3 linked regions of the Homo sapiens genome follow. The protein of the gene in region 2 interacts with the protein of the main gene of each other region in a pairwise test. Each region holds a gene or a part of one and is shown on either strand. Other genes may lie near its edges. The genes, in order: STAM, LSAMP and PLB1.

Evidence for each region.
Region 1: the proteins of LSAMP (region 2) and STAM interact in binary tests that used the Homo sapiens proteins (3 or more experiments, as listed by UniProt).
Region 3: the proteins of LSAMP (region 2) and PLB1 interact in binary tests that used the Homo sapiens proteins (3 or more experiments, as listed by UniProt).

The regions. Positions count from the first base shown.
Region 1 is NC_000010.11:17,703,125-17,710,238, reverse strand, and holds part of STAM (signal transducing adapter molecule 1), read right to left. Parts: intron 5,809-7,114; coding exon 5,721-5,808; intron 5,270-5,720; coding exon 5,215-5,269; intron 4,652-5,214; coding exon 4,498-4,651; intron 1,464-4,497; coding exon 1,288-1,463; intron 1-1,287. UniProt on the Homo sapiens protein: Involved in intracellular signal transduction mediated by cytokines and growth factors. Upon IL-2 and GM-CSL stimulation, it plays a role in signaling leading to DNA synthesis and MYC induction. May also play a role in T-cell development.
Region 2 is NC_000003.12:116,085,407-116,092,520, forward strand, and holds part of LSAMP (limbic system-associated membrane protein isoform 1 preproprotein), read right to left. Parts: intron 1,151-7,114; coding exon 918-1,150; intron 1-917.
Region 3 is NC_000002.12:28,498,953-28,506,066, reverse strand, and holds part of PLB1 (phospholipase B1, membrane-associated isoform 1 precursor), read right to left. Parts: intron 1-7,114. UniProt on the Homo sapiens protein: Calcium-independent membrane-associated phospholipase that catalyzes complete diacylation of phospholipids by hydrolyzing both sn-1 and sn-2 fatty acyl chains attached to the glycerol backbone (phospholipase B activity).

The sequences.
Region 1 (7,114 bases), on a different chromosome or scaffold from region 2:
AGAATGAGTCTCAAGTAATCTCTAGTAACAAGGAAGGTAGAGCAGCATGTGACATAGTCAAACAGAGGACTAGCAGGGGAAAAGTGGCAGTTCCGGCTAATACTAAAATAGCTGCAGGGTCCTATTAAGTCAGGAACCCTAGTGTCTTCTCAACAATTCCTACCTTCTAGCCCCTTTGTATCTAGTTGTAAAGCAACATGCTACTCTAAGAACAGCTGTTTATTTTCCAGAAGGGTATTCATTTCCACCAGATTTCAACTTAAAAAAAAATCCTGCAAGAGTGCAAGCTACACTTAACACTTTTTTCTAAGATACAGAACCCACTAGGGAATGCCCTGTTTTCTGACATGTGGGCCTTGCCATCATCCCCCTTAAGGTCACTTCGGGATACTAGATCTGACAACCGAATAATGCTTGAAAATCCCCAAGCATCTCTAACACGTAACTCTTTGAGGATGAGTAGTGCAAGAGAGGGCAGTGCAGGAGCATTCCTGGGCAATCCTAACACTGCTGGAAAGGTTTCTAGAAGTTGTGCCTGTGCTACCTAGAAACTTCTGTTGCCAGCTAGAATGTCGTAACTTCTAGAATACACGTTGGTAAACTCTTAAAAGCCTATCCTTTATTTGCTTCAAGGAAAAGATTTCAGCTCAGAGTCCCATTAAAGCAGAAAAAACACACAATAATCATTTAACTACATGACAGACAGCACTGTAAGTAAATGGCAAAGTAAATGGGCCTCTGTCATCACATATTCAGCCATCTGCCTCCTGAGAAACAAGGGTGCTTACCTTCTTATTATCTTCTTGTTTCAAATGGGGTACCTTGATATAATATAAACTAAATTCCAAAACAGGGCAAAAATAAGAAAATATTTGTCTTAAAGAGACAGCTCAGAACTATATATTTTAAAATAACGGAATTTAGATTTTATACAAAATGTGTGGAAAAATGACAAATTATAGTCACTAAACATAAATTTCATTAAAGACATTATCAAATATCATAGATGCAAATAAAAACAACAATAAAAACTTATGGTTAGAGTAGTATTAAAAATATAAGGCTGAAACCAGATTACATGAGTTGAGCGAGTCGGGAGCAGAGGACCAGCTTGCTGGCTGGTACTGGAATACCACAGAGGCTCCACCACTCATTAGCACAAATGGGGCGGCCGCATGACGCTGACCACAGATATTTATTAGCCAGATTTTATAGTTATAGATAACTGGGGGCACTTAAACAGCTGTAACAGCACTAACTCCAAACAAGAATCAACAGTAAAATTACTTTGGGTAAGCGGCCTGAGTCTGCTGACTAGGAAGGGCTGGGTTTGCGGATGGTGGGACCACTGCCTGGCTGAGAGAAGACAGCTGCTCCGGGGGAAGACTGTAGCTCTGGAGGTGGCTCATCTGCGCGTTCCCTGCAACCAGGTAGGCACCACTTGGAGGAGGCCCTGCATACACCTGCGATGGTTAAAGAGAAATCATATTCAATTCTAAAATTTTAATAAGCATACTGAACTTTCTCTGTAGAGGTATTCAGTTACAAAAACAAGAAAAATCACCACTCTGGAATCCTTTTTTCAAAGTTATTTCTGTCAACGGGCATTTTGAAAAACGCTTTTCAATGAAATAGGCTGTTGATGGTTTTCATTTTTAGTTAAACATATGCTAAACTCATGTTATCTCCATACTGAAGCATTAAAGAAACTTATCCTGAAACTTTATACTAATCTCCCTTTACATTAAATATATTTTAATATTCTGCATGTTGGTATTTTTTAAGGAATCCCAAAGGATATTTAGAAAGTGTATTTGAACTCATTGTTTTGTAGCCATAGACTGCAATGGATACAAGTCACATTTCCTAAACTGCAGTTTATTGAACAATAGAGCAAGCTAACTTTCTAAAGCAGGGGTCAGCAAACTTTTTTGTAAAGGGCCTGACGTAAATATTTTAAGTTTTGTGGACCATGTAGTCTCTGACACAACTACTCGGCTCTGTCAGTAAATCAGAGTGGCTGTGTTCTGATAAAAGTTTATTTAAAGCCGCCAGGCATGGTGGCTCATGCCTGTAATCCCAGCACTTTGGGAGGCCGAGGCAGGCAGATCACGAGGTCAGGAGATCGAGACCATCCTGGCTAACACAGTGAAACCCCGTCTCTACTAAAAATACAAAAAATTAGCCAGGCGTGGTGGCGGGCGCCTGCAGTCCCAGCTACTCGGGAGGCTGAGGCAGGAGAATGGCCTGAACCCAGGAGGCGGAGCTGGCAGCGAGCTGAGATCGCGCCACTGCACTCCAGCCTGGGCGACAAAGCAAGACTCCGTCTCAAAAAAAAGTTTATTAAAAAAAAAAAAAACAGGCAACAGGCTGGATTTGTCTACTTCTGTATTTCAAAATGCATTTTTTTAATCTAAAGAGATTGAAGTCTTAACTACCCAAAGTCTAAAACACATAATGTCCTAATTTTCTGCAGTATTCATTAGATCCTTCCATTTAGCACTTCTGTTAAACGACAGACCCACACAGGGATCCAAAGGGTCTTCATTATAAACACAGCTATACCAGTCCTCCTAACTTTATTTTGTCATTCTTCGAAAATTGAACATGAAGGTTTTTTGCTTCCTTGTCTCAAACTGGTGATCAAGACTCTAAAGCAGGTGCCCTCTAGCCCCAAGTTTCTTGGGCCTAGCTGTTCATCTACAGGGTGCTGGCCCCTCATTCTGCTAAACGTTAATCTGAACACAGTCCGTGCCCACTTTACATGGAAAAAATGGAGTATCTGGCTAGTTTTGTTTTTATTTATTATTATTATTATTATTATTTTTTGAGGTGGAGTCTTGCTCTGTCGCCCAGGCTGGAGTGCAATGGCACGATCTCGGCTCACTGCAACCTCCGCCTCCCGGGTTCATGCCATTCTCCTGCCTCAGCCTCCCAAGTAGCTGGGACTATAGGCACCCACCACCACGCCAGGCTAAATTTTTTGTATTTTGAGCAGAGACAGGGTTTCACCATGTTAGCCAGGATGGTCTCCATCTCCTGACCTCGTGATCCACCCGCCTCGGCCTCCCAACGTGCTGGGATTACAGGTATGAGCCACCGCACCCGGCCAGTATCTGGCTAGTTATTCCCTATAACCTCACCTCACCGTGATGAGTTTGTGAAAAGGGGGTCCTTGAAATAGTTGCTTGGGGTGAAAAGAAAGCAAACGGCTCTACACTGCATTGCATGCATTCTCATGTAAAGCAGGGAAAATTCCAGATTAAAGCAGTTTTTAAATTATGGAAATATATTTTGTTGGTTTGTAATAATAAAAACAGGTTTTTACCTCATTTTTTTTTCACTGCATTTAAGTTTTCCTTTTAAGGATAACTAGAAGTTCATTAGATATTTAAGAGAGTTTTCTTAGCTCTAAAAGCATTTTGTGTTTTTTACGAAACTACTTTATTGAGATATGTCTGACCTGCAAAAGGCTATACATATTGAGTGTACACAACCTGATGAAGAACTAAGGTTCTTAAGTAAATAATTACATACGAAGCTTTAAAAATATGGGCCTCGGCCGGGCGCGATGGCTCACACCTGGAATCCCAGCACTTTGGGAGGCCGAGGCGGGTGGATCACGAGGTCAGGAGATCAAGGCCAACCTGGCTAACACGGCGAAACCCCGTCTCTACTAAAAATACAAAAAAATTAGCCTGGCGTGGTGACGGGCGCCTGTAGTCCCAGCTACTCAGGAGGCTGAGGCAGGAGAATGGCGAGAACCCGGAAGGCGGAGCTTGCAGTGAGCTGAGATTGCAGCACTGCACTCCAGCCTGGGCCACGGAGTGAGACTCCGCCTCAAAAAAAAAAAAAAAAAAAAAAAAAAAGGGCCTCAACCCTGAGGATTCTGATTCAATAGGTCTGGAGTGGGATGGATATATCTGTAATTTTTTTCAAAAGTGTGATGGCTGATTCTGCTGCATAACCCTGTATAAAAGCTATTTCCTTTAAACAACAACAACAACAAAAAACTATTAGCATAATTAGTATATTATATGCTGTAACTGCCAAGTAAAAAAATTCCGTTAAACTTTATTTTAATTTTAAACATTAGTTTTAGAAAGTTTCAAACAGCTATTCCAAATAATCTCAAATGCATTTGAGAATTTATTTATTTATTTATTTATTTTAGAGACAGGGTGTCGCTGTTGCCCAGGCTAGACTGCAGTGGTGTGAACACGGCTCACTGCAGCCTCGACCTTCTGGGCTCAAGCTATCCTCCCACCTCAGCTTTTCGAGAGCAGGGACCAAGGAACATGCCCCAGCCTGGCTAATTTTTTTTTTTTTTTTTGGTAGAGACAGAGTCTCACTATGTTACCCAGGCTGGTCTTAAACTCCTGGTCTCAAGCAATCCTCTTGCCTTGGCCTCCCAAATTGCTGAGATTACAGGCATGAGCTACCACACCTCACTGTGCATTTGAGAATTTAAAACAACATGGGCTTCTAAAAGCTTACCTGAGAACCAGAAACACCAGATGACTGCATATAATATGGCTGATTCTGTAACTTTGCATACATGGAATACATCGGATCTTCGTTCATTAACTTGGTATATAAGGAAAGGGCCTCCATCACTTTCACATTAAGTTCTGAGAGTTCTGAATGTTTTCTGAAACATGACACAATAATTTGAAGCATAGCTGTTACTAAAATGATATAATGCTCTAAATAATGATACATCAAAATATCAAAAATGGCAAAAAGTAGTACTAGTAGACATTATTAAAAATTTCACTTATAACAAAAATATCCTGCATTTTAGCCCTGAAGCAACCCAAACTGTTTAAGGTTTACGTGCTGTGCTAAGGGAACTCCGTCTTATCGTACCTGACTGTACCAGAAATATCTTGGTTTCCCTAGTTACTAACATATGGGTCATTTGTGAGCTCTGGTAATGCCACTTCAGCAAAGAGAATTACATAGCTAGCCCTTGTTTTTAAAACGACCTATCTACGCTGGTCCTTTTGACTATATTGCAAAGGTCGATCAAATCCTCACTTTAAAAAAAAGGACAAATGAGTCTAATTCTCCACATCTAGCACAAGATATGTGAATGAGAGTTGGTTCCTCCACAATATTTTTTTTTTAAAAGGCAGTTATAGCCCACTTTGCAGTACAGTGATAGCTTCAGGAAAGAAGGTACACAACATAAATGCACCCATGTTCTTTTACCTATCAATATCTTCCAGCTTTTCATCAATGAGAGGTCCCATCTGGTGACACATTGCTAAAATGACAAGATGTGAAGAAATATAAGAAAGTACAAGAAAAAAAAATGTGAACCTTTGATAGATATTTGTATAATTTAAGGAATAAAAGATTTAATTTGGAGTAATAAAAATATACATTCTTTAACCTTAGTCTACAGAACCCAAAATTGATTTTCTTAAAGTATAATGGTGACAACTTAATCTAAAATATTAATCTGAAAATCTTAAAGTGCCATTTTTCATTTTACCAGGTTCTAAAATGTTGAACAGAACACTTCGTTTGGATAGAAAATTATAAGAATTCAAATTCTACCCAAGGTTTCAACTGCATATGAGAGTGAGCCTGGGTCAAGGAGAAGTGAGAAATGTTCCATTTTTAATATTATCCTCAAAACCCATTCTTTAACAGGACACCAGTTATTAACCTCTAACTACTCTTTATTTGCAAGGTAAATAGAAAAGTTTTACCTTCAAGATGAAGCAGCTCTGGTAGGTCTGGCTGATCATCACTGGGGTCTGTACTTTGCAGCATCTGTAGCAACTGGTCCATTTTATCCTACAGGAATTAAGTAGTTAATATAAAAAGCTACCAACCTTTAGGCAACTTTATGTTTTCACTTTATTATCAACTAGACAAACTTTTGAAATTCATAGTTATGGAGACTCCAATTTTGCTTTTATGTTGTCAGTGTCCCATGTATTTATTCTCTCTAGTACTGCATGAAGTCAGAGCCTTGAAAGTACTTCCTATATATTTTTGAAACTGCTCAGGAGGCTGAGGTGGGAGAATCACTTGAGCCCAGGAGGTCAAGGCTGCAGTGAGCTATGATCTCGCCACTGCACTTCAGTCTGGACAACAGTGCAAGACCCTGTTTAAATAAATAAATAAACCAACCAACCAACTGCTAACAGAGATTCTCTTAAGCGAGAAGAAATCAAGCCACATTTAAACTTACAATGCGTGAGTTCTTCCACCTCTTATGTCATGCCAGAGGATTTTGCTTTGTTTCGGAGCAGCTTTAGCTTAGCCATGCCAACAAGTGTACTATCCATCTCAAGATGGCATTGCTTATGACTAACAACTTGTCATTCCTACTTGCCCATGGTGAATACAGCAGCTGTTTCAGTAAGGCAGAGCTCAGCTGTATCACAGCTGCTCTTCTAAGTGGGACTCTTAGGGTTTATTCCACATTTTCTTTCTACCAGTGTTTCAGTTGGTCATAAAAGGAAGGAGGAAGACTAGTGGTTTCTCTATTTTCCTATTTGGGAGAGGCTGGAAGGTACCTCAAACCAGTGACACAGATCTATTTCAGAATCTTTTGTTGTACAGACCAATGGAATGAATGAAACCATTATTACATACACACATCTATACGATATATAAGTATATATGTATTTATGTTTTTTAAAAAATCCAAACAGATCTACTTTACCATGACCACTACTAAAATAATTACAAACCTTTCTCCATGCATGGTTTTTACATGGTTATGCTACTATATATAGGTACGCAGGGCAAATAAAGACTACTAATCCTAAGCAAAGTAATTATTTAAAATTTAAAAACTATGTTCTGTGTAAAAGGAAAATAGCTTGAGAAACGAATTAATCATCAGAGAGTGAAAGTGACATAAGTATGCTAAAAAAAAAAAAAACTCTTCCCAAGTCAAAATAATTCTGTTTTTTTGAAATGGATACCAATTTTCAATGTAAATTATTCACAATTTTCATTTTAAGCAGTCTTAAAAAACAAAAGCACATGTCAAGAAAGTTTGCCTACCACACACAAAAAAAGGTCAAATGAAAGTGAGAGTCCATTAACACACAGATGGTTTCCGTTTTGTTTGCTTACAGAATACTAT
Region 2 (7,114 bases):
ACCACTGACTGCATTGGAACCTTGACAGGAGCCCTAGGGCCATGCCTAATTTGCATTAAATTTACATAGAATTATAAATCAAGAATACATGAACACAGCCCTAATGTTTGTTAGTGCTTAGATCTTTCCTGATAGATACATTGAAACTGCTGGTGGTTGGGCTTCACTTGCAATAAAATTGTGCAGCTGATCAGCTTTGTTCTCATTCTGCAATTATGGCGAAAGAAACCCAATTGAGCAACAGTTTGGGGGTATGTGAGTGCCATTTAAGGTTTTTATCCTGTAAAACGATGACTCAGATGTGCCCTTAGATCCCCCAATCTAGAAGCAAATTGTCCCCAATTACTTTGCAGATCTTTGTCACTGGATTTCATCACCAGTAACTTGTCATTAAGTAGAGATACAAACTACATAGAAACCTGAACAGCTGAAAAAATAAAAAGTCCTCTGGAAAATTTTATTTTTTCAGAAGAACTTTGCTATCACAAAAAAGATAATTAGTGCTAATCTTCAGGGTGAGGACAGATAAACCCAAACTTTCTTAAACTCAGCAAAGCATCTGGTACCTAACAGGGTGGAAAAGTGTACTTCATATGGCCCTAGGCATTCTGTGTGTTCTGGTATCCCTGATTTACATTGTTCCAACAGCTGTGGCTTTTGCCGTGTGTTTTCACACTCAGGGCTAGGTGAAAACATTCTCACCAATGTTACTGGCTCTCAGTAACAGGAGTACACTCTCTATATTGTTTTGGGTCCTCTCATTTTAAGTGTCTTTTTAGACAGAAAATCGATACTTAAGTCCAATAATATCTTTGGGAATATTTCTTTTCAGGAAGGATTCTGCAAATATTTTGTACATTATTATTCTGCAACTCCCACCTCTTTCTTACCACCCTTCTATCCCACACTTTCCTTACCTTGTACGATCAAGTAAACTTGGGAGGTCTTGGGCTCATGCTGTGTCTGAACTGAGCAAGTGTAGGAACCCTCATCATAGACATCCACCTTCTGGATTCGGAGGCTGTATTCCAGAGAATGGCGTTTCTCCAGCTCAACCCGTGGGTCCAGAGACCACTTGTCATGTCCAGCAAAAATGATGCCAGAACGGTTCAACCAGGCCACCTTTGAGTTCTTGTCTTCTACAACGCACCTGACAGAGCAGAGTAACAATATTAGTGCCTTAACAACAACTATTTCTGCGTTTCTTCTCTAGGTGATCAGACTCAACAAGTCTAAACAAGGAAAATAATTATATGCAGAATGAATTATTGCCATGCCATTCTTGGAGTCCTTAGAATTTTCACTATTTCATTTAAGATCTAATTACCATCCAGTGGATGGATGTCATTATATTAGACTCAGTTCAGCAATAAACAATCTGAGTATGAGTAATGAAGGCAAAGTTAAATTAGTATTGACTTCCCATTATCTTCTTCTTGTTTAGGAAAAGGCCACTCACTCAGAACTCCGTCTGTTTAAGTAATTTTGAGAATTATACAATTGATATCATAGCACTTTTACTCCATCTTGAACTGTGTTTACTCTTTTATAAGTATTTCCTATAGTATTGTGTAATGATAGATTAAAGTTATACTCCACCATTATAGGAATTAGACTAGACTTCTGAGTTTACTTCTAATCTTTACAAGTTTGGGATGCCACTTCCAGGAGTAAAAATTGTGTGAGCAGATCCAAGCATAAGGGGATAGGTGTTATGACAAGGAAATCAAAGCAAACATCATCTGGCATAAGTTTGGTTCCAGCTGCTGAAGGCAGAAGCTTGTTTGGTGGCAAGTTAGGTTGCTACCAGCATTTCTAGTCACACTAAATGCAGGCAATCTTTAACAAAGATGAAGAAGCCAATTTTGTAGTTTATAGACCAATAGATCAAAAAGGGTAAAGGAATAACGCTTAATTGAATTACTGCTTTAAAAAACTTAAAAGGGTCTCTTTCTGAAATTTGAAAGGGGCAAAGAACATGCATTAGTGAAGGAGGGGTAAATACTTTTTGGTGAGTATGGTTTTCTCCTTCAGTTCCAGCAAGAGTCTTGCAATGGAAAAATCTAGCAGAAAACAAAAACAAAAAAACCTTCTGTCTGCATCCCTGTGGCAAGATTTATGTCTGCCCCATAGGGAGATGTCCCAAACCCTGTTCACAGCTGCAAAGCCAGCTGCTCAACACTCTGGAGCAGGAGGGAATGAACAGAAAGAGCCACGAGCACCACAGCAGGACTATTAAGACACCCTGTTCCCCTGTATTTTCTAAGCCAAGTAAAATCCAGTTTTTATCTCAGGTCAAAACAACTAAACATAGACAGAAAATTGATGCATAACCCATAGGCTGTCCCACATGGAATATAAAGGCCAACTGTGTCTCTTACAAGAAAGATAACAGCTAAGTCTTTTTAAATACTCCATTTATGGTATAATACAAAGACCTCCTTATCCTATTAATTTTAAACGAATTGTATATGTTATTTAGAGGGAGATTTTTTTTTTTTTTTTTGAGACAGATCTTGTTCGGTCACCAAGACTGGGGAGCAGTGGCCTGATCATAGCTCACTGCAGCCTCAAACTACTGAGCTCAAGCAATCCTCCTGCCTCAGCCTCCTAAGTAGCTAGGATGATAGGTGCATGCCACCAGGACTAGCTAATTTAAAAAAAAAATTAGAGATGGGGTCTTGCTGTGTTGTCCAGGCTAGCCTCAAGTGATCTTCCCAACTTGGCCTCCCTAAGCACTGGGATTATAGTCATGAGCCACCATGCCTGACCCTAGAGTAAGAATTTGACTTAATAAGTTGGGTGCCAAGATACACAGGTCTTACTTTTCTTCTTTACCTATTTGTTTTCATAAACATAACTAGATTTAGGTATCATTTAACATCTCCATTTCCCAGTATGTGCTTCTCTGCCATGCATATATTATTGAGTATAATTTATGTGTTTAATAATTTAGAGGCCTTTTATCATGAGCACCAAGCTAACTTCATGAATGCTTGCTGCCTCATTCCAGACTCAGTTTTACTTTTGCTGTTCTCCTCTCTTGTGGCATCATTTCTCTGTTCTTGGTGATGTTTGCCGCATCTCTGAATTTAAAATCATTGATGAATTAATTAATAGGATGTTTGGTGTCTTACTCTAGACCATTATGAAATTGTTGAATGTAGATTTACCATGTTTTTTCTATTCTAGTAAGAAGGATAGAAATTTACCTGTGTAAATGTGTTTTAAATCTTCTATCATTTTTCCCTGTGCATGTTTCTCACCTGCACAGCGTAACACAAGAATGGTCAGATTTGCTACATTATAGATGTATTCTGAATGCCTCTTAGCACCAAATATGGCTCCAATCTCTTCACTTTAAAAGAAAAAATACCACGTAATATAGCTTACCTAAATATGGCCTGTGAATCCAATAAAAACAGCAAATTTTTACCTTATTCATTTGGATACCACCAATAACTAATCTAGGATAAAACAGGCATTTGATAAATGCCTGTCCTGTGAACTAACTGGGTCACACATGCAGATACAGGACATTTGGTAACCTATATTCCACGTCCCCATCCCAAGTCCTATAGCACCCACAAATAAATTGGACAGATTTCCTTAACAATATAAGGTAAAGTTTATAAGTCGGGTCTTTATGGTCCTTTGACATTTTAGCAAATTTCATTCATGGAAAAGTTAAAGTCATACGGATCATTATTCCAAATTATTCTTTGAGGGTGTTCAGCTCTATCTTACCTAAAGAAGTAATTGACCATTTCAGCAAAATTGCCAGATGCATAAAAGTGCATCTAATGAAACAATGTATTATGTGGAAATTTTGTTATGACAATTTACATAGCACCTTGTTTTTGATCTGGGTTTTATCCGTATTTATTTTTAAAATTCGTCTTTTACTGACAAACAAGTGAATAGTATATTAGAATACACATATACTTTTTTTTGTTTTGTTTTGTTTTTGAGATGGAGTCTCGCTCCGTCGCCCAGGCTAGAGTGCAGTGGTGCAATCTCAGCTCACTGCAAGCTCTGCCTCCCAGGTTCACGCCATTCTCCTGCCTCTGCCTCCCGAGTAGCTGGCACTACAGGCGCCTGCCACCACGCCCGCCTAATTTTTTGTATTTTTAGCAGAGACGGGGTTTCAGCGTGTTAGCCAGGATGGTCTCAATCTCCTGACCTCGTGATCCGCCCACCTCGGTCTCCCAAAGTGCTGGGATTACAGGCGTGAGCCACCGTGCCCGGCCTAGAATACACATACTTTTTCCTAACTCAGATGGTTAGCCAAACTCCAAGCACCAGAACACAATACAGTATAGTGTTTTTAAAAAGGAAACCATTTCAAGGAGAAATTTGTTTAAAATAAATATATCTCAATGGAAAAAAAATAAATAAATAAAAATAAAATAAAAAGGAAACCACTTCTCCAGATCTTTCAGGGTTCCTTTTTATGTACTCAGTAGTTGCAAAATAAATCTATTAGCTCTATAAACTGGAAAATAATCCTTCTACAATGTGACTAAAACTTTCTTAATAAAAAATGAGTAAAGGAATAATGCAATTTCAGAACTAAATATTTTCTTAATTTTAGAATCTTAATTTAAGGTGGCACCTATTTTTTTTAATCATAAAAAGTACACATGAAAAAAAATGGTAGGACCAGGCACGGTGGCGCATGCCTGTAATCCCAGCTCTTTGGGAGGCTGGAGGCAGGAAAATCACTTGAACTCAGGAGTTCAAGGCTACAGTGAGCTATGATCACATCACTGCACTCCAGCCTGGCCAGAGTGAGACCTTGTCTAAAAAAAAAAAAAAAGAAAGAGAAAGAAAAGAAAATATAGTAAACCAGAATCAGTAGTTTCAATTTGTAGAGGTCTACGTTTATTAAGAGATAATAACTAGTCATACAGTGTACTGACAGACCACCTGGCTATCTGGAAATAAGAAATGCTGATATAAATACAGACCCAGGTTCCCAGCATTCACTGAATCACCAATAAGCATCATGGGCTTGCATCTCTGAGGTCTGCTGGCTCAACTGTGCATTAGGCAGGCTTGTGGAGTAAATGAGAATTCTCGGGCCATGCCATTATAATATGATAATAATGAATTATCACCTACCTAGAATGTTGCTGCAATTTAGTTCTAAACTTTATACTTAATGATTTTGTTTCGGGGGACCTGCCCCGGAAAATCACGTAGGTTCTTTTCTATTTTCCTAAGCGTCGGCTGGCTTGAGAAATAAAAGGACAGAGTACAAAAGAGAGAAATTTTAAAGCTGGGTGTCCAGGGGAGACATCACACGTTGGTAGGATCCGTGATGCCCCACAAGCCACAAAAACCAGCAAGTTTTTATTAGGGATTTTCAAAAGGGGAGGGAATGTGTGAATAGGTGTGGGTGACAGACATCAAGTACTTAACAGAGTAATAGAATATCATAAGGCAAGTGGAGGCAGGGCGAGATCACAGGACCACAGGACCGATGTGAAATTAAAATTGCTAATGAAGTTTCGGGCACCATTGTCATTGATAACATCTTATCAGGAGACGGGGTTTTGAGATCAACCGTCTGACCAAAATTTATTAGGTGGGAATTTCCTCTTCCTAATAAGCCTGGGAGCGCTATGGGAGACTGGAGACTATCTCACCTCTGCAATCTCGACCATAAGAGACAGGTACGCCCCTGGGGGGCCAGTTCAGAGACCTACCCCCAGGTGCGCATTCTCTTTCTCAGGGACGTTCCATGCTGAGAAAAAGAATTCAGTGATATTTCTCCCATTTGCTTTTGAAAGAAGAGAAATATGGCTCTGTTCTGCCCGGCTCACCGGCGGCCAGAGTTTAAGGTTATCTCTCATATTCCCTGAACAATTGCTGTTATCCTGTTCTTTTTTCAAGGTGCCCACATTTCATATTGCTCAAACACACATGCTGTACAATTTGTGCAGTTAATGCAATTATTACAGGGTCCTGAGGTGACATACATCCTTCTCGGCTGACAGGACTAAGAGACTAAAGTAAAGACAGGCATAGGAAATCACAAGGGTATTGATTGGGGAAGTGAGAAGTGTCCATGAACTCTTCGCAATTTATGTTTAGAGATTGCAGTAAAGACAGGCATAAGAAATTACAAAAGTATTAATTTGGGGAACTAATAAATGTCCATAAAATCTTCACAATCCACGTTCTTCTGTCATGGCTTCAGCCGGTCCCTCCGTTTGGGGTCCCTGACTTCCCGCAACAATTTTATCTCTAGAATCAACCTGGGCTAAAGCAGGAAGATAAAAAGATGTATTTCAAAAACCTGTTAGTGTTATGTGTTGTTTTAATAGAATGTTGTCTTGAGGAACACATGATGTTGCAAATAATTCCCAGGTTTAGAAAGAACCGGACCCTAATGACAATGGGTGTTAGTGCCACGAGGAGAGGATCAGAGAATATCCTTCCGCTTTGGGTGGGTTTTATGGAAGGCAGCTGAGGACATGGACGTATGCTATAAAGTGCCACCTCTTCAGAAAATCTTCTCTCGTCAGTGTAACCTTCTTAAAACTTCCTTTTTATGACCTTATCATACTCCACATTGCATTAGAGTTATTTGCACTCATCTTTTCTCATAAGCTTATTAAGACAGTGACCTTCTTGTAATTCACCTCTGGAGCCCTCACTGAGCCTAAATACCATGTGCATAAATACCATGTGCATAGTAGATACTTGCTGAAATGTGGAATAAACAAGCTGAATTTAATTTAACAAATTGCATTAGGTCAATTATAAAATATTCATTAATTATCTAATAGGTACAGTAAAGATGGATAACTATTTTAATATTTCTTAAGAAATAATTAAAGTTATTAGGTATAAAGGGAAATTTAAAGAGAATTATTGAGTGTGGTATTAAAATGAAAGTAAAGGAGAGAAAAAATGTGTTCCTGTGTCCACTATGAAGAAATATCATCTCTAGGAACTAAATGATCTATATTGCATGTGAAAAACTGTGAAAAAAAAGTATAACATCCTAAATAAGTGATTAGGAGGTTGCTCACGTTAATCATGAACCCTCAAATATTAGATGGGTTACCTACTGGAACTGCAAATCTATGATTTTTAAAAAATC
Region 3 (7,114 bases), on a different chromosome or scaffold from region 2:
TGATTGACAATAAAGTCCTAGAAATCTACAAGGCACAGATGACATCCCAGGAAAGTAGAACTTCTGAGCCTCTAGAGAAAACCCCATACCTGTGCTCAGTGTCCAAAGCAGACATTTGGAGACAAGTGTGTGAGGTGAAGTGAGGGTTGGGGATGGGGATGGAGGCATTGGGATGTAGAGTCTAACACCAGAGATTCGGGGATGGCTATGCCACCAACTAGGTGTGTGACCCAAGCAGGTTCTCCCTGATCTTGCATCAATAATTTGAAGGACTCAGGCCACCAAAAGTTCTCAAATATCCCTTTCTACTCTTATTTAGAAAGACTGTATTTCTAGAAGGCTTGGGAAAACTTCCTGCAGGAAGGGAAGGAAAGCCAACCTTCAGGAAGAACCCTGGGCTCTTGCAAAACAAATGTTACCTAGCTTGTTTTAGTAATGAAAAGGTATCCTTTTCTCACTCAATGAGTTCACCCAGCTCCCACCGTTGGTTTTGCATTGACAGGCCTGTCATGGGTACGTTACCAAGGCAACAAGTTTTTCCCACAGGCATGACAATCTTCTGGGAACTTCTGACCCATTCGAGGAAAATAAAATTCTAGCAGAAATGGTAATTTATTAGATACAATGATTTCTTGCCAACTTGCTTTTGCCGACTGCAGTTGAGTTAATGATATTTCAGTTTTATAAGCCAAAACATTCAAAGCAGGAATCTGTTTTCATATGTATTGCTTGTTGAGTCCATTTAAAAGTTTAAATAAAAGTCTAATTTTGGTTCTTCTCTCGAGCTCTATTATACTGTAAGGTAGCGAAAGGTGCTGGCCCTGGATCCAAGCTCAGGACTGACCTCAGCTTCCTGTACTAATTAGCTGGATGATTTTGGATAAGTTACCTAGCTTCTCAGTTTTCTCATCTGTAAAATGGGAAAAATAGCACAGACCATCTTAAAGGAAGGCTGTTATACATGAACTGTGCTTATCATAGAGCCTGGTTTTTCTAGGGAGCCTCACACCATGAATTTAGTTTGAAGTGATCCTCAAATGTGATAACATCCCCAGTGCCCAATAGAATGAACACTTATATCTTCTCTGAAGACATTCACCTTCATCCTAGGCCTCAAAGAATCTCATAAGTACATTTTCAAGGAGTCTGAGCACCATGCAATAAAAGATAACCAGGTATAGTACATAAAGAAATTAGGTACATATAAGCAAGAATCAGCAGGAGAACAAAAGAAACAGATCACAAAGACTTTGGATACTAAAATCATCAAAATTGTAAAATTTCAAAATGAATTTTTGTTGTTGTTGTTGTTGTTTTGTTTTTTTGAGACTGAGTCTCGCTCTGTTGCCCAGGCTGGAATGTAGTGGCCCAATCTCGGCTCACTGCAACCTCCACCTCCCAGGTTCAAGTAATTCTCCTGCCTCAACCTCCTGAGTATCGGGACTACAGGCACACACCACCATACCCAGCTAATTTTTGTATTTTCAGTAGAGATGGGGTTTCACCATGTTGGCCAGGCTGGTCTCGAACTCCTGACCTCAAGTGATCTGCCTGCCTCAGCCTCCCAAAGTGCTGGGATAACAGACGTGAGCCACTGCGCCTGGCCCTTACAATGACTATGTTTTTTAAAATAAGACAAACTTGAAGTTTTTATGGGAATCCAAAGTTATTTAATTACCAATTTGGTAAGAAACCAAATGTAAGTTAAATTTGAAAAATAAAATCACCAATTTTCAAAATCTTCAACGATCAGGTTTAACAGAAAATTAGACGCAACTGAAGGAGACTGAATAAGCTAGAAGATGTATCATAATAAATTACTTAGAATGCAGTGTAGAAAGACAAGAAGATGGTAAAGTTGGTAGAGAGGTGAAGAGACATGGTACATGGAGTGAGCAGGCCAAACGTTGTGCTGGCATTCCAGAAGGAAAAGGCAGAAATAATCAAGTAGAGGCAACATTTCAAGAGATACTGGTTGAGAATTTTTCAAAACTGATGGAAGTAATCAAGCCACAGATTCAGGATGTGCTAAAAAGGCCAAGCAAGATAAATTTACATAAATGAATGAACTGGAAAACAAACATACAATATAGACGATGGTATATTTTTCCAAAGATGGCCACAGCATTTCGTCTCATCCTGTATGCCCTTTTGCAGTGTGACTTTTGCCATTCTTCCCATCAAGAGGCAACGTCTATTTCCTTCACCTTGAATCCAGGCTACTACAGAAACTTGCATTGACTCATAGAAGCAGCAGAAATGACTTTGGGGACCGGACATTAGAAGGCTTTGTGGCTTCTATTTGTGCTCTTTTGGGACCTTGGGTCCCCATGTAAAGAAGTCCAGACTGCGCATACAGAAACAAAGGCCAAGGAGGGGAACACGAAGACACCCAGGTCCCAGTACCAAGTCCCCAGACATCTCATTTGGGACCCACCAAGTCAATCCCAGATGATACTATGTGGAACAGGGATGAGATGTTTCTGCTGAAGTCTTCCCAAGCTGCAGGTTCACAGAACTGTGAGTAAATGAAGTGGTTGCTACTGTAAGTCACTGAGATTTGGGGGTAGTTTGCTATGCCTCAATAGAGAACGGTGACATAGAAGATCAATAAAAGCCAGATATGGTGGCTCATGCCTGTAATCCCAACACTTTGAGAGGCTGTTGGATGATAGCTTGAGCCTAGGAGTTCAAGACCAGCCTGGGAAAGATAGTGAGACTCCCTCCCTACAAATTTTTTTTTTTTAATTAACAGGTGTGGTAGTATGCACCTGTGGTCCCAGCTACTTGGGAGCCTGGAGAGAGAGCAACTCTTGAGGCCCAGAGGTCGAGGCAGCAGTGAGCTGTGATCAGGCCACTGCACTCCAACCTGGACAGCAGAGTTAGACCTTTCTCAAAAAATAAAAAATAAAAATAAAAAATTGGTTTGAAAAAAATAATAAAGTAGACAAACCTCTGGTAAGATAAATCATAAATAATCAGTACCAGAAACAAAAAGGACATGACTACAGAAGCTACAGGTATTGAAGGGATAACAGAAAACCATACACAAATTTTATGCCAAACCACTTGCAAATTTACTCGAAATGGACACATTCCTAGAAAAAAAAACTTTCCAAAGTGGATTTAAGAAAAATAAAATATGACTAATTCTATAAGTGCTAAAGAAATTGAACCAGTAGTCAGAAATCTACCAAAAAATAATATTCCAGGCCCAGATGGCTTCATTGGCAAGTTCTACCAAACATTAAAAGGAAAAAAAATCCATTATTATTACAAACTATTCCAGAAAACAGAAAAATAGGAACACTCCCAAATTCATTTTATGAGACTGTAAAACATTGGTACCCAAATCCAGCAAGGGCAGAGAGAAAAAAGAAACTTATAACTCACTCTCATTCATGGGCATATAAGAAAAATAACCTGAAACAATTGTTAGCAAACTAAGCCTAGCAATATAAGGAAAGAGATACACCATGATCAACTTGATTTTACGCCAGCAATGGGTATACAATCCCAATGGATCATTCAGTATTAGCAAGTCTATTAATATAACTCAACATAATAGATCTAAGGGTAAATAATCATATGATTATTTCTATACATGCTGAAAAGGCCTTTAACAAAATTTAATATGAATTTCTGATGAATTAAAACTCAAGGATGTAGAAATTTATGGTTATTTCCTTAATATGAACACACACATATACATATGTTATGTATGTATGTATGATTCCCAAAGGCTATCATCTAACTGAATAGGAAAATATTCATTTCCCATTGCTTTTTGTAACCTTGAGACCACATGGTCCTTAAAAATATGAAAACATAATCAAATTACATTGTAATAAGATAAACTAAAATGTTTCTTACCTATGACATTTGCAAAAATTCTAAGTCTTGACTGCATGCTTTGTTGTCAATATAGCTTTATTGTCAAGCTATGAAAAAATAAGCAATTTCATATATATTGCTGGTAGGAATGCAAATTGGTACAATCCTTATGGAAGGAAATTTGGTAATACCTAACAAATCTATATGTGTGTTCACCCTCTGACCCAGAAATCCCAGTTCCAGGAATTTATCCTAAGTTAGATGTATAGCCTAGCATAAGCTGAACTTGAAAAAGATACATGCATGTGACTGTTCATGACAGTAGTATTTGTAATAGCAAAATATTGGAAACAACCTAATGGCCATGTTGGGAGGCTGGTGGTATATATGGTACATACTGGAATATTCTGCAGTTGGAAAAAAATAAAGATCTCTGAACTGATGTAGTATAATTTTCAGGACATATAATTAAGTAAAAAAATCAAAATGCAAAAAACATGTATAGTAGGTTATCTTGTGCAAGAATAAAGGAAAATAAGAATATATTTTCTCAAAAAGAAAAAGGATATTAAACTAATAAAATTGGTTACCTACAGGAATGACAGAAATGGGATAGAAAGGGTAGGGGAAGGGGATGGGACCTCTCTGAGTACATCTTTTCATATAGCTTCGACTTTTGAACAATGTTAATGTTTTATATATTGAAAAGACTTAGTAAAAAGCAAGAACAGAAGAAACACAAAATTAAATACAGACACACTTAACTGTATGCCACTAGGTTATATAATTACACAGAAAGAACAAAAAAAAATTCAAGTGATTCTGAACACAATATTTTGATTATACACCCTGAGTGGGATATATTCTAAAGGACGGAAGTATGGCAAAGGAATTTTGAACTTCATTTGTTGTTGGTGGTGTTGTCATAGCAATTCCAGTACTGTGTTGTATGTATTGTAGGATTCAGTAAGTGAGTAAATTCATTGATGTGTCTGTAACCCAGATTTGCACTGTGGGTGAAGGACAATACAAATATGGAATGAAAGAAGGAGATGAAAAAGTGTAATTCTACCTAAATTAAAGATAACTTTATAAATTTATTGGATGTTTTTAAAAAAGAAAACTACATTTCTTAGTTTTGTCACTGAAAGGGCCTAGACAATAACACTTCAGCATCAACAAACATTCCTAGCACCTGGACCTTGGTTTCTAAATAACACTCCCCTACCAATGGAAGCCTTGAAGAAACAGCTGATTCCAGGTTTGGGATAGAGGAAATACAAGGTTAGCAGGGAAAATCTTGTACCATGAAGTTTAAAAGTGCTTAAAAATTGATAGGGCCACAGAAGTTACCTTGAAGAGGCTCTCACTGGCCAAATCTGTAATAACTTTGGCATCAAAATGAAAAATAACAGGCCTGGATTACAACACACAGATTAATAAGAGTCCATAAGTGAATTTCTTTTCTTTTCTTTTCTTTTTTTTTGGAGACGGGGTCTCACTATATTGCCCGAGCTGGTCTCCAACTCCTGGGTTCAAGCTATCCTCCCTGCTTAGCCCCCCATAGATGAATTTCATATGAAAAAGATAAGACAAAAAGGAGGGGGGAGTTCAGTTAAATATTTATTTAAGTGGGGGAAAAAAGGGAATCTCTTTTTTATGGAGGAAACCCAACTGACAATAGCAGAAGGAAGAAGGAATGACAGAAAAATCACCATCTTCCAATCACCATGGTAAAAATTTAGGCAAGAAGTATCAATGGATGCTAAAAATCACTGGGAAAAAGGGTAATCACACAGTCTCACAGTATCTCCCTATGGATAATTTATAAACCACATGGGGCAGGTACCTTCACAAGGGAAAAAAGTCAGGCAGCCACACCTTCACCAAGTTATCAAATTTGGCATCACCAACTAGGGGATTCATGAACATCACTGTTTGTTGTTCATACACAAAAACCAGCTGAAGATGTTCACTGACACAAAAGAAACAAACAAAAAGCCGAGAGAACTATTCTTGATGAAAAGAGATTAAAGAGACAAGGCAAATAAATGCAACGTGTGGTCTCTGATAAATCTAATAAGCAATGACTGAAGAAATGAACAAAATAATAAAAAGTCAATTTATTTAATTCACAACATTAGCAGATAAAAGGAGTAAGTCACACAATCATCTCAATAAATACGGAAAAAGCATTAGATGAATTTCAACATCCACTTCTCATTTTAAAAAATCTCTTAGCAAATTTGGAATAAAGGTTTCTTAATCTCATAGAGCTTATCTACAAAAAAAGCCATTAGCAAACAGCACAATTACTGATGAGAAATTAAACATTTTCCTTTTTTTTTGAGACAGAGTCTGGCTCTGTCACTCAGGCTGGAGTACGGTGGTGCAATCTCGGCTTACTACAACCTCCACCTCCCAGGTTCAAGCAATTCTCCTGCCTCAACCTCCCGAACAGCTGGGATTACAGGCAACCGCCATCACGTCTGGCTAATTTTTGTATTTTTGTAGAGATAGGGTTTCACCATGTTGGTGAGGCTGGTCTCAAACTCCTGACCTCAGGTGATGCACCCACCTCGGCCTCCCAAAGTGCTAGGATTACAGGTGTGAGCCACCACGTCCAGCTTAACATTTTCCTTTTGAACTTGGGAATAATATAAGAATACCATCTTTGGTATCATCACCTCTTTAAAAAAAAAAAAAAAACTGTTGTGCAGGCACCAGCCGGCACAGTAAGATAAGAAAAAGAAATAAAGGCACACAGATTGAAGAGGAAGTAACAACACCGTCATTATTGGCAGGATTATGTGTGTTAGGTTGGTGCAAAAGTGAGTGCTATTTTGCCATTGCTTTGTTACAAAGCAATAGAGAACTAATCCAGACTTGAGCCTGGATTCTCTATTTTATTTTTTAAAAGGTCAGTTGGAACAACGCTATGTGCATTAGCTCTTCTGGTGGGAGCATTAAACAGCATTAAAAGTAATGGCAAAAACAGCAATCACTTTTGCACCAACCTAATAGAAAACCCAAAAGAATATATAAATTATTAAAATTTTTAAGTTTAGTTGAGTTCAAAATCAACACAAAATTCACTTTATTTCTATATATCAATAACAAACATTTCAAAATAAAAATTTTAAAACCCACTTGCCACACAACAAAAATATCTAAACCTAGGAATAAATTTAACAAAATATGTCCATGCCTGCAACAGAGAAAACTTTGAGAGGCATTAAAGATCTAAATACATGGTCAGGACTTGAAAGACTCAATATTG